Linked DNA regions of Homo sapiens: region 1 is linked to region 2. Evidence: fine-mapped expression QTL. Tissue or cell type: skeletal muscle. Region 2 holds a variant in brackets; the other region holds the start of a gene. All regions are shown on one strand. Distances are from middle to middle. Region 1 holds the start of GSDMD (gasdermin D). Region 2 overlaps MAFA-AS1 (MAFA antisense RNA 1).

The links. PIP is the estimated chance that this variant, and not a neighbour inherited with it, causes the effect.
Region 1: it holds the start of GSDMD, and the variant in region 2 is the best candidate, but not a certain one, in a credible set for the expression of GSDMD in skeletal muscle (GTEx, PIP 0.80).

What each region holds. Positions count from the first base shown.
Region 1 is chr8:143,556,153-143,560,517 of GRCh38, reverse strand. GSDMD (gasdermin D) reads right to left here and starts at 2,172. Exons shown (of 11, transcript NM_024736.7): 1 at 2,067-2,172; 2 at 966-1,186; 3 at 549-741. The coding sequence starts at 1,182. It overlaps LOC100310756 (a long non-coding RNA gene), which reads left to right and starts at 2,247. Exons shown (of 1, transcript NR_147504.1): 1 at 2,247-3,699. RefSeq lists an enhancer at 1,716-2,357.
Region 2 is chr8:143,414,903-143,419,283 of GRCh38, reverse strand. MAFA-AS1 (MAFA antisense RNA 1) reads right to left here. Exons shown (of 3, transcript NR_186795.1): 2 at 1,365-1,543; 3 at 134-309. Among named protein-coding and RNA genes, the nearest start is that of MAFA-AS1, 8.9 kb to the right of the region's middle. The variant T/G (reference allele first, on the strand shown) is at 2,350.

The sequences.
Region 1 (4,365 bases), 140 kb before region 2:
GGTGGTGCAGAGGGGCCCTCCAGAGGTCTGTGGGTGCCGGGGCACCGGCAGCCTCTCCGTGTGCTCCCCACGGGGACGGGACCCCATGAGGAAAGGTGGACTCGGGGACTCCAAGTCCAGACTCGAGGTGCGGCCCCCTCACCTGGGCCCCCGTGTTCACACCACCCCTTGTCCTCACAGCAGCCTGGGGCTCAGTCCGGTCCTTAGGATCCAGTCCTGGCAGCGGAGGCCCCAGATGACCCCTGCAGCTTCCTTCCTGCAAGCTGGTTCCGGCCACAGCGCTCTTTTGCCTCTGGGACTTTCCTGATGCCCCAAGGTTGTGACCTTCCCAAGAGCAAGGCTGGGACCTGGCACAGTGGCTCACCCCTGTAATCCCAGCACTTTGGGAGGCCGAGGCAGGAGGACTGCTTGAGGCCAGGAGTTCAAGACCACCCTGGCCGAGATAGCAAAACCTCACCTCAAAAAATAATTTAAATAAATAAATAAATAAAAGCAGGGTTGCTTGGGGTAGGTGGGGCCCTGCCCTGCCCTGCCCTCTTCGGGCCCACCTCTCATGGAGCAGAGTCTGCCAGGTGTTAGGGTCCACACTCAGCGAGTACACATTCATTGAGGTGCTGGAGCTGTCAGACACCGCGGCCCCGCCTGCGATCTTTGCCTGTCCTGGGGCTGCCAGCTCCACGCTGCCCTGTATCTGCCCATCCATGGCATCGTAGAAGTGGAAGCTCCTGCCACGCTGCACGTCTAAAGCAAGGCCAGACCTGAGGCTGTGCCCAGCGCCCCGCCTCTCCCCCGCCCCCACCAGCCCTGTCCCAGCCCCAGGGCAGAGGGACCTTTGGAAAGGCCCCGGCCTCTGGAAGAGAGGCCCAGAGCTAGAGGCTGCAGAGCCCAGTGGATGGTTGGCCCCAGCCCGCTCCCCTCTCCCATCCAGCCTCCCTGGGGCTCTGCCTCAGCACCACATCAGGCACCTGGTTCCGCGGCATCCGGCTCCAGGATGTCCTTGATAGACAGGTTGACACACTTATAACGGGGTTTCCAGAACCATGAGCTTGAGGGCTTCCTAACCACCAGGCAGTAGGGCTGGAAGCCAGTGGAGCTCTGCAGGCTGGTCACAGGGATGAACTCCCCACCATGGTCCAGCTCCTGGACCACTCTCCGGACTACCCGCTCAAAGGCCGACCCCATGCTCCTGAGGAGGGGAAATGGGTCAGGCATTGTGCTCTCGGGGCGGGCGGGAGGGAGTGGGAGAAGGGTCAGTACTTGGATGTCTCCCATGATGGGGGACTCCTTCCCTCCAGAACAGCCCTGCCCAGCTCATCCTGGGATGCTCCCACTAGCAGAAAGCTTCTGTCCCCGGCCCTCCCCAACACAGAATTACAGTGTTCTCCCTGTTGTCTACGGTACCATGAGCACCTCCAGCCAGGGACAGTGAGGCCTGACGCCCAGACCTGCTCTAACACAGAGGGCTCTGTCCACTAGAATGGCTGCCTCTGGCTGGGAGGAAACAAGCTGTCACCTCCTGAGCGTGGTGCAGGGACCCACTGCAAAACCCAGCCAGAGTGTCACCAGGGACCCACTGCAAAACCCAGCCAGAGTGTCGCCCCACCCCAGCTGCGTCCTCCAGGGCCTTCTCTGTGCCTGGAGCTCCATGAGCCACCTGTCCAAGGCTGAGGCTTTGGGGGTCAGAGGCCATAGCGGGCCTCCGCTGGGATAGGGGGCACCTGGGCCACTGTGGAGGGGCTGCAGCTGCCCCAGGAAGCCTCTGAGTGCTGGGTCTGCTGAAAGTGGAGGCTGGGCCCAGAAGGCAGCTGGGGGCGGGAACAGCACCGGCCCGGGAACCTGGATGGCGGACCTGGGAGTCAAGCCCAAGCCCAGGTCCAAAGGCCGGGCCCCTGGGCTGGCCAGGGGCAGCCTTTCCCGAAGCCTGGAGCTTCCGCCCCCGTGTGCGGCGCGGGGCCTTCTGGGCGAACGCTGGGGCAGCAGGGCCAGCATCCCCCACCCGGGAGCCAGCGGCCGGCCCCACTCGGGAGCTCCAGCCAGGCCGGGGGAGGGGGCGGGGCGCAGCTCACCGTGACCGTCGGCGCCCCGAGGGTGGCGCGTCTGGCGCGTCTGCTCTCCCTGGGAGCCGTCCGGCGAGCAGGAGCTGGAGGTGCCCAGAGCTAAAAGTGAAACTGCAACCTGACGCAGGGCCCGCCCAGGACGCCCTCCCGGAACCGTCCCGGAGAGCCCGCCCCGGCCCCCTTCCTGCCCCCTCTTCCCGCCAGCCCGCCTGGAGCACCAGCCTCGCGCGTCCGGAGGAACCTTGGCTTGGCGCCCCATCCTGGTAGCCTCAAACTTCATAGCACTTTGTGGTTTTTCTTAAAACTCTGAGCCTGTGCCCGGGCGGATCACCTGAGGTCGGGAGTTCAAGACCAGACTGACCAACATGGTGAAACCCCGTCTCTACTAAAAATACAAAATTAGCCCGGCGTGGTGGCGCATGCCTGTGATCCCAGCTACCTGGGAGGCTGAGGCAAGAGAATCGCTTGAACCTGGGAGGTGTAGGTTGCAGTGAGCCGAGATCATGCCATTGTACTCCAGCCTGGGCGACAGAGTGAGACTCCGTCTCAAAAACAAACAAGCAAACAAACAACTTTGGGCCTGTGCCGAAGGGTCTGGGCAGATCTTCCAAAGATGTACAAAATGTAGAAATTGCCCTCAAGCAAATGCAAAGATGCTCAACACCCTTAGTCATCAAGGAAATGCAAATGGAATCCACAGAGAGATACTGCACACTGACAAAGATGGTCGTATTACTAAAGGTGAATAACCAGCGCGGGGGGCACGTGGAGTCACTGGAACATTTGTGCAATGCTGGTGGGAATGTCAACCCGTGCGGCCCTCTGGAATAAGCCTGGCAGCTCCTCCAAGAGTTACCGTGTGACCCAGCAATTCCACTCCTAGCTCCACCCACAGGAATTGAAAGCAAAGACGCAAACAGATGCCTGTGCACCAAAGTTCACGGCAGCATCCTTCGCCATAGTGGCAGCATCCGTCGTCACAGCGGCATCATCCTTCATCATAGCGGCAGCATCCGTCGTCACAGCGGCAGCATCCTTCGCCACAGCGGCAGCAGCTGTCGTCACAGCGGCATCATCCTTCGCCATAGCGGCAGCATCCTTCGCCAAAGCGGCAGCATCCTTCACCATAGCGGCAGCATCCTTCGCCATAGCGGCAGCATCCTTCGCCATAGCGGCAAGGTGGAAACCCTGTCCATCCACTGAGGCGTGCATAGACTAAACATGGCCAGTCCAGGCACTGGAATCCAGGCCGTAGAACGGCGCCCACGGTCAAAAGGAATGAGACCCTGATGCACTGGGCGACACAGACGGGCGACACAGACTTGGAGACATCATGCTAAGTGAAAAGCCAGGCACACGGAGCGGACGGCGTGATCCTGCTCACGTGATGTGTCCCGAATGGGCACGTCCAGAGGGAAGAAGGGAGATGGCGCTGCCGGTGCCCGGGACGGGGGTTGGGAGCGACGGTTGCTGGTTTGGGGTTTCTTTCTGGGGTGAGGAAGTGTTTTGATATTGGCCGTTGGTGATGTTTGCATACCTCTGAATATGCTAAGACCCACAGAATTGCACACTTTAAATGGATGAATTGTATGGTATGGGAATTACACAATTATGTCTCATTAAAGCAGTTATTTTAAAAATCTAGTGCCCAGTAGCAACACCTAGTCTCGGCACAGGCTCCCTCAGTGCCCTACTGACCTAAGTCATGGTGGGCCCAGGGCCATGGGCCCACCCCTGCACACGGTAGTCCTCCCACCCGGCCCTCCCAGCCGCTCCGCGGTTGTGGATGGGGCTACTTGGGCTTCGGCCCCACTCCTAGGCCTGACCACAGTGGGGACACAGTGGTGCCCTGCGGGTCCCTGCTGGTGCTGTCTCCTGGCTGTTTTGTGTATTTTTTGTTGTTTGTTTTGTTTTGTGTGAGGCAAGATCTCTCTGTCGCCCAGGCTGGAGTGCAGTGGCACAATCACCACTCACTGCAGCCTCGACCTCCTGGGCTCAAGTGATCCCCTCCTGTCAGTCTCCTGAGTAGCTGGGACTACAGGTGCTCAGCACCACACCTGGCAAAGTTTTCGTTTTTGTTTTGAGACTGAGTCTTGCTCTGTCACCAGGATGGAGTGCAGTGGCGTGATCTCAGCTCATTGCAACCTCTGCCTCCCAGGTTCAAGCGATTCTCCTGCCTCAGCCTCCCGAGTAGTTGGGACTACAGGCATGTACCACCACACCCGGCTAATTTTGTGTCTGTGTGTGAGAGACGGAGTGTTGCTCTTTTTTGCCCAGACTGGAGTGCAATGGCACAACCTCAGCTCAT
Region 2 (4,381 bases):
TGCCCTCATTCACCTTTGGAACCTCTGACCTGAGGCACCTTGAGACGCAATAATATTAATACCTTAACTGCAAGACTCCGCGACTCACAGAGAGATGTAAGTGCAGGTAACAGAGAGCTGAAGGAACAATGACTCCAACAAATTCAATGGAAATTTAATTTCTATGTTGTAAAAGTCCAGAAGCTGATGGCCCAGGGTGGCCGTGGTGACTGCTTCACAGAACGCTCTGGATTGAGGCTCTTTTCATCTTGGCCTGTACTCCCAGGGTCTCCTGGCCCACAATGTCAGCTTCCACTCCAACCATCACATCTGCATTTGAAGATGAAGAAAGGTGAAAGAGGTAAAAACAAAAGGAGCATATGAGGTGATGGGTGGATGAACGGACAGACAGCTGGACGTGTGACAAGAAAGATGAGGAAGACAGCAGGATGGGTAGGAACGGGAGGATAGTGGCTGGATGGAAGGATATATGGATGGTTGATGGTGGGTGAATAAATGGTGTGTAGATGGGTGAACAGGTGGGTGAGTGGATACGTGGATGGTCAGTTGGGTGGATGGATGGGTGGATGGGTGGATGGATGGATGGGATGGTGGGGGAATGGGGAGATGGGCAGATGAGTGGGTGGATGATGGGTGGGTGGATGGATGGAAGGGTGCGTGGGTGAGTGGGTAGATGGGTGAGTGGTTGGGTAGGTGAGTGGGTAGATGGATGGATGGGAGGATGAGGCATGGGGGAATGGGGGATGGGTGGGAGTGGGTGAGTGGGAGGAGGGTGAATGAATGGATGGGCGGGTAAGTTGGTGAGTGGGTGGGTGAGTAGGGGGTATGGGGGTGAGTGGGAAGATGAGTGGGTGGGTGGGGGGGTATGGGGAAGAGTGGATGAGTGAGTGGATGGGTGGGTAGGGGGTTAGAGAGTCAGTGGATGAGTGGGTGGGTGGGTGGGGGTTGGAGGGTGGGAGGATGAGTGGGTGGGTGGCTGGGTAGGGGGTTGGAGGGTGTGTGGGAGGATGAGTGGGTGGGTGGGGGGTAGGGGGCTGAAGGGTGGGTGGGAGGATGGGTGAGTGTGTGGGTAGGGGGTTGGAGGGTGGGAGGATGAGTGGGTGGGTGGGTAGGGGGTTGGCAGGTGGGTGGGAGGATGGGTGGGTGGGGGGTTGGGGGTGAGTTGGTGGGTGGATGGGTGGGTAGGGGGATGGGGTTGCCTGGGTGGGTGGTTTAGGAAGCTGTGGAATGACTCCAAACGTGGAGTGAGGGAGCTCAGTTTGTACCACCGAACCTTTGCTCATCTCTCCCCTGGGCCCTCTTCCCTCTTCTCTCCAGAGCCCTCCTCAAATCTCACACCTCCATTTTCAAGAAGCTGGCCTCACCCATGCAGCCTCTGTAGCTCTCCTTCCCCTCCAAGCTTGTTTCTCTCGGCGCTGCCACCGTCGGATTCCTGTGCTGGTTCTTGCTGGTTTTCTTCACCTCCTGACCACCAGAACACTGGCGCCGGGAGGGCAGGGTCCGTGTGTTTCCACGGTTGATTTCCTAGAGGCTGCAGCAGCGCCTGGCACCGAGGAGGTGCTCCATCAATATTTGTTGAAAAGAAAGAAAAGGAAAGCAGGATGGAGATGGACTGACCCTGCCCAGCACCCCTGTCCAGCCCCTGCCCAGCACCCCTGTCCAGCCCCTGCCCAGCACCCCTGTCCAGCCCCTGCCCAGCACCCCTGTCCAGCCCCTGCCCAGACCCCTGCCCAGCCTCCCCTGTCTATTTTCCAGACAGCAGCCAGAGGCGTCTTTGCAGACACCACTGTCCTGCAGCAACCCTCTAAACCCTTCGCCGGCTCCACAGTTTGATCCAGGTCAGTCTGAGTTGCTCAGTCAGTCCTGAGACCTGCCCTCTCTTGTCCCTGTTCTCACTGCCCCCTGAGGCTTCCAGTCTTCCTTTAGGATCTGGGCCAAAATGGCCTCCTCCAAGAAGACCCCAGGCTGTTCTGTGAGCTGGTTTCCCCCTGTGTCCAGGAATGCCCCCACTCCCACAGTAGTGAAGTCTACTTTCCACCTGCTACCATCAGAGTTGAGCCCAGTTCTGGGCCTGGCACACAGGTGGGGCACTCCACAGGGTCTGACAACCCCTCCCACTGACCTGGTCTCTCCTCTGTGCCCACCAGGGACTCTATACTTGGGCCTAGGACTCTCATTCTGCAAGTCCCGCCTGGGCCCTTGCGGCCTCCATGGCATCCAGGGCCTCTTGTGGCCCATAGCAGGTGTGGGCTCTGCTCTTCAGCCTTCTGCAGCCTCCTGGGATGCTGTTCTGTTAGCAGCTCTTCTGGGGCAGGTCACTTTGGCATCAGCCACATCCACTTTTGTTTT[T/G]TTGAAGTGATATATGCACATCTGTCTTTTATAAATCAAATGTAGTAAGACGTAAAACAAAACTCAGCAGTCTCCTGCCCATGCCCTGAGTCCCCCACTCAGCAAGATAACTGCTTTCAACTCTGTTTCTTCCAGGAACCTCCTGATATGTTTCGGCTGTGTCCCCACCCTAATTCATCTTGAATTGCAGCTCCCATAATCCCCATGTGTCATGGGAGGGACCCAGTGGGAGGTAATTGAATCATGGGGGTGAGTTTTTCCTGTGCTGTTCTCGTGATAGTGAATAAGTCTCTCAAGATCTGATGGTTTTATAAAAGGCGGTTCTCCTGCACACGCTCTCTTGCCTGCCACCATGTAAGACGCGCCTTTGCTCCTCCTTCACTTTCCGCCATGATTATGAGGCCTCCCCAGCCATGTGGAACTGTGAGTCCATTAAACCTCTTTTTCTTTATAAATTACCCAGTCTTGGTAATTTATTACAGTGCGAGAACAGACTAGTACACCTCCAAATCTCTAAATAAAATGTTTATATTACTATTTCTTGATTTATTAATTTTAGGCATTGTTTAGGATTTCACTCCATTACACATTTGCTCTTCCCCGCCCCACATCCTCCCTATATACTATGTGAACATTTTTAGTTTAGGCCGGGTGCAGCAGCTCATGCCTGTAATCCCAGCACTTTGGGAGGCCAAGGCAAGCAGATTGCTGGAGCCCAGGAGTTTAAGACTAGCCTGGGCCATGTGATGAAACCCCATTTCTACCAAAACTACAAAAAATTAGCTGGGCATGGTGGCATGCACCTGTAGTCCCAGCTACAAATGAGGCTGAGGTGGGAGGATTGCCTGAGCCTGGGAGGTCTAGGATGCAGTGAGCTGTGATCACACCACTGCACTCCAGCCTGGGTGACAGAGTGAGACCTTGTCTCCAAAAAACAACAACAACAACAAAAAAGGCTGAGGCGGGCAGATCACGAGGTCAGGAGATCGAGACCATCCTGGCTAAAATGGTGAAACCCCGTCTCTACTAAAAATACAAAAAATTAGCCGGGCGTGGTGGCTTGCGCCTGTAGTCCCAGCTACTCAGGAGGCTGAGGCAGGAGAATGGCGTGAACCCAGGAGGTGGAGCTTGCAGTGAGCTGAGATCACACCACTGCACTCCAGCCTGGGCGACAGAGTGAGACTCCGTCTCAACAACAAAACAACAACAACAACAAAACCCCACAATACTTTTAGCTTAAAAATATTCCATATTTAAATTATCATGACTACATAAGAATTGTTCTTGCCTGAACAACGTTATATACTATAATTAAATGCTCTTTCCTGAGCAACTTCTTTGTTTTTCCTGGAGTTAAAAATTGCCTCCTGGTTTTCCTTTGTTTGGTTTTCTATGTGTCAACAACAAATTCTTCCTAAATGCTCTAATCATTTTAGAAATCTCTCGTGACATGGCTTCCACACAGAAACTTGCATTGTGTAATCTAGGAAGGCCATTTTCCCTGGATACCTTTCAGCAGGAGCCAACCAGTTTCCTGCCACAGCTGGACTGGCTGCTCTCCAGGCCTGCTGGCCCCTCCTGCCTCACCTGTGTTGGCACCCCCTTCTCTTTCTTGGTTGACTTCTCCTTGTAGGGGAGCATCCTTCAGATACTTCTTCAGAAGAGATGCATGGGAGATAAGTGTTTTGAGATTTAACAAATCTAACAGTGTCATTAGTATTTCCTCACACTAGACAGATAGTTTGGCTGGGTATAGAATTTGCTGTTGGGAGTCTCTTTTCCTCAGCATCTGTAAGGTACTCTGTCTTTGAGCTTCTGTGTGGTTACTGGAAGTCCAGTTCCATCTTTACTACTAATCCTTGGTATGTGTGGAGGCTAAAGTAACATACCATGGAAGCTAATCCACCATGCTGACTTCTGACTAACACTGGTTCCAGGAATGCCTCTGAGATTTTCAGTTTATCTGTTGTTTCTTGCATAAGAGCATATACTGTAAGTCCTGCCTTTAGATCAAATTCCTCCCCATTCCCTC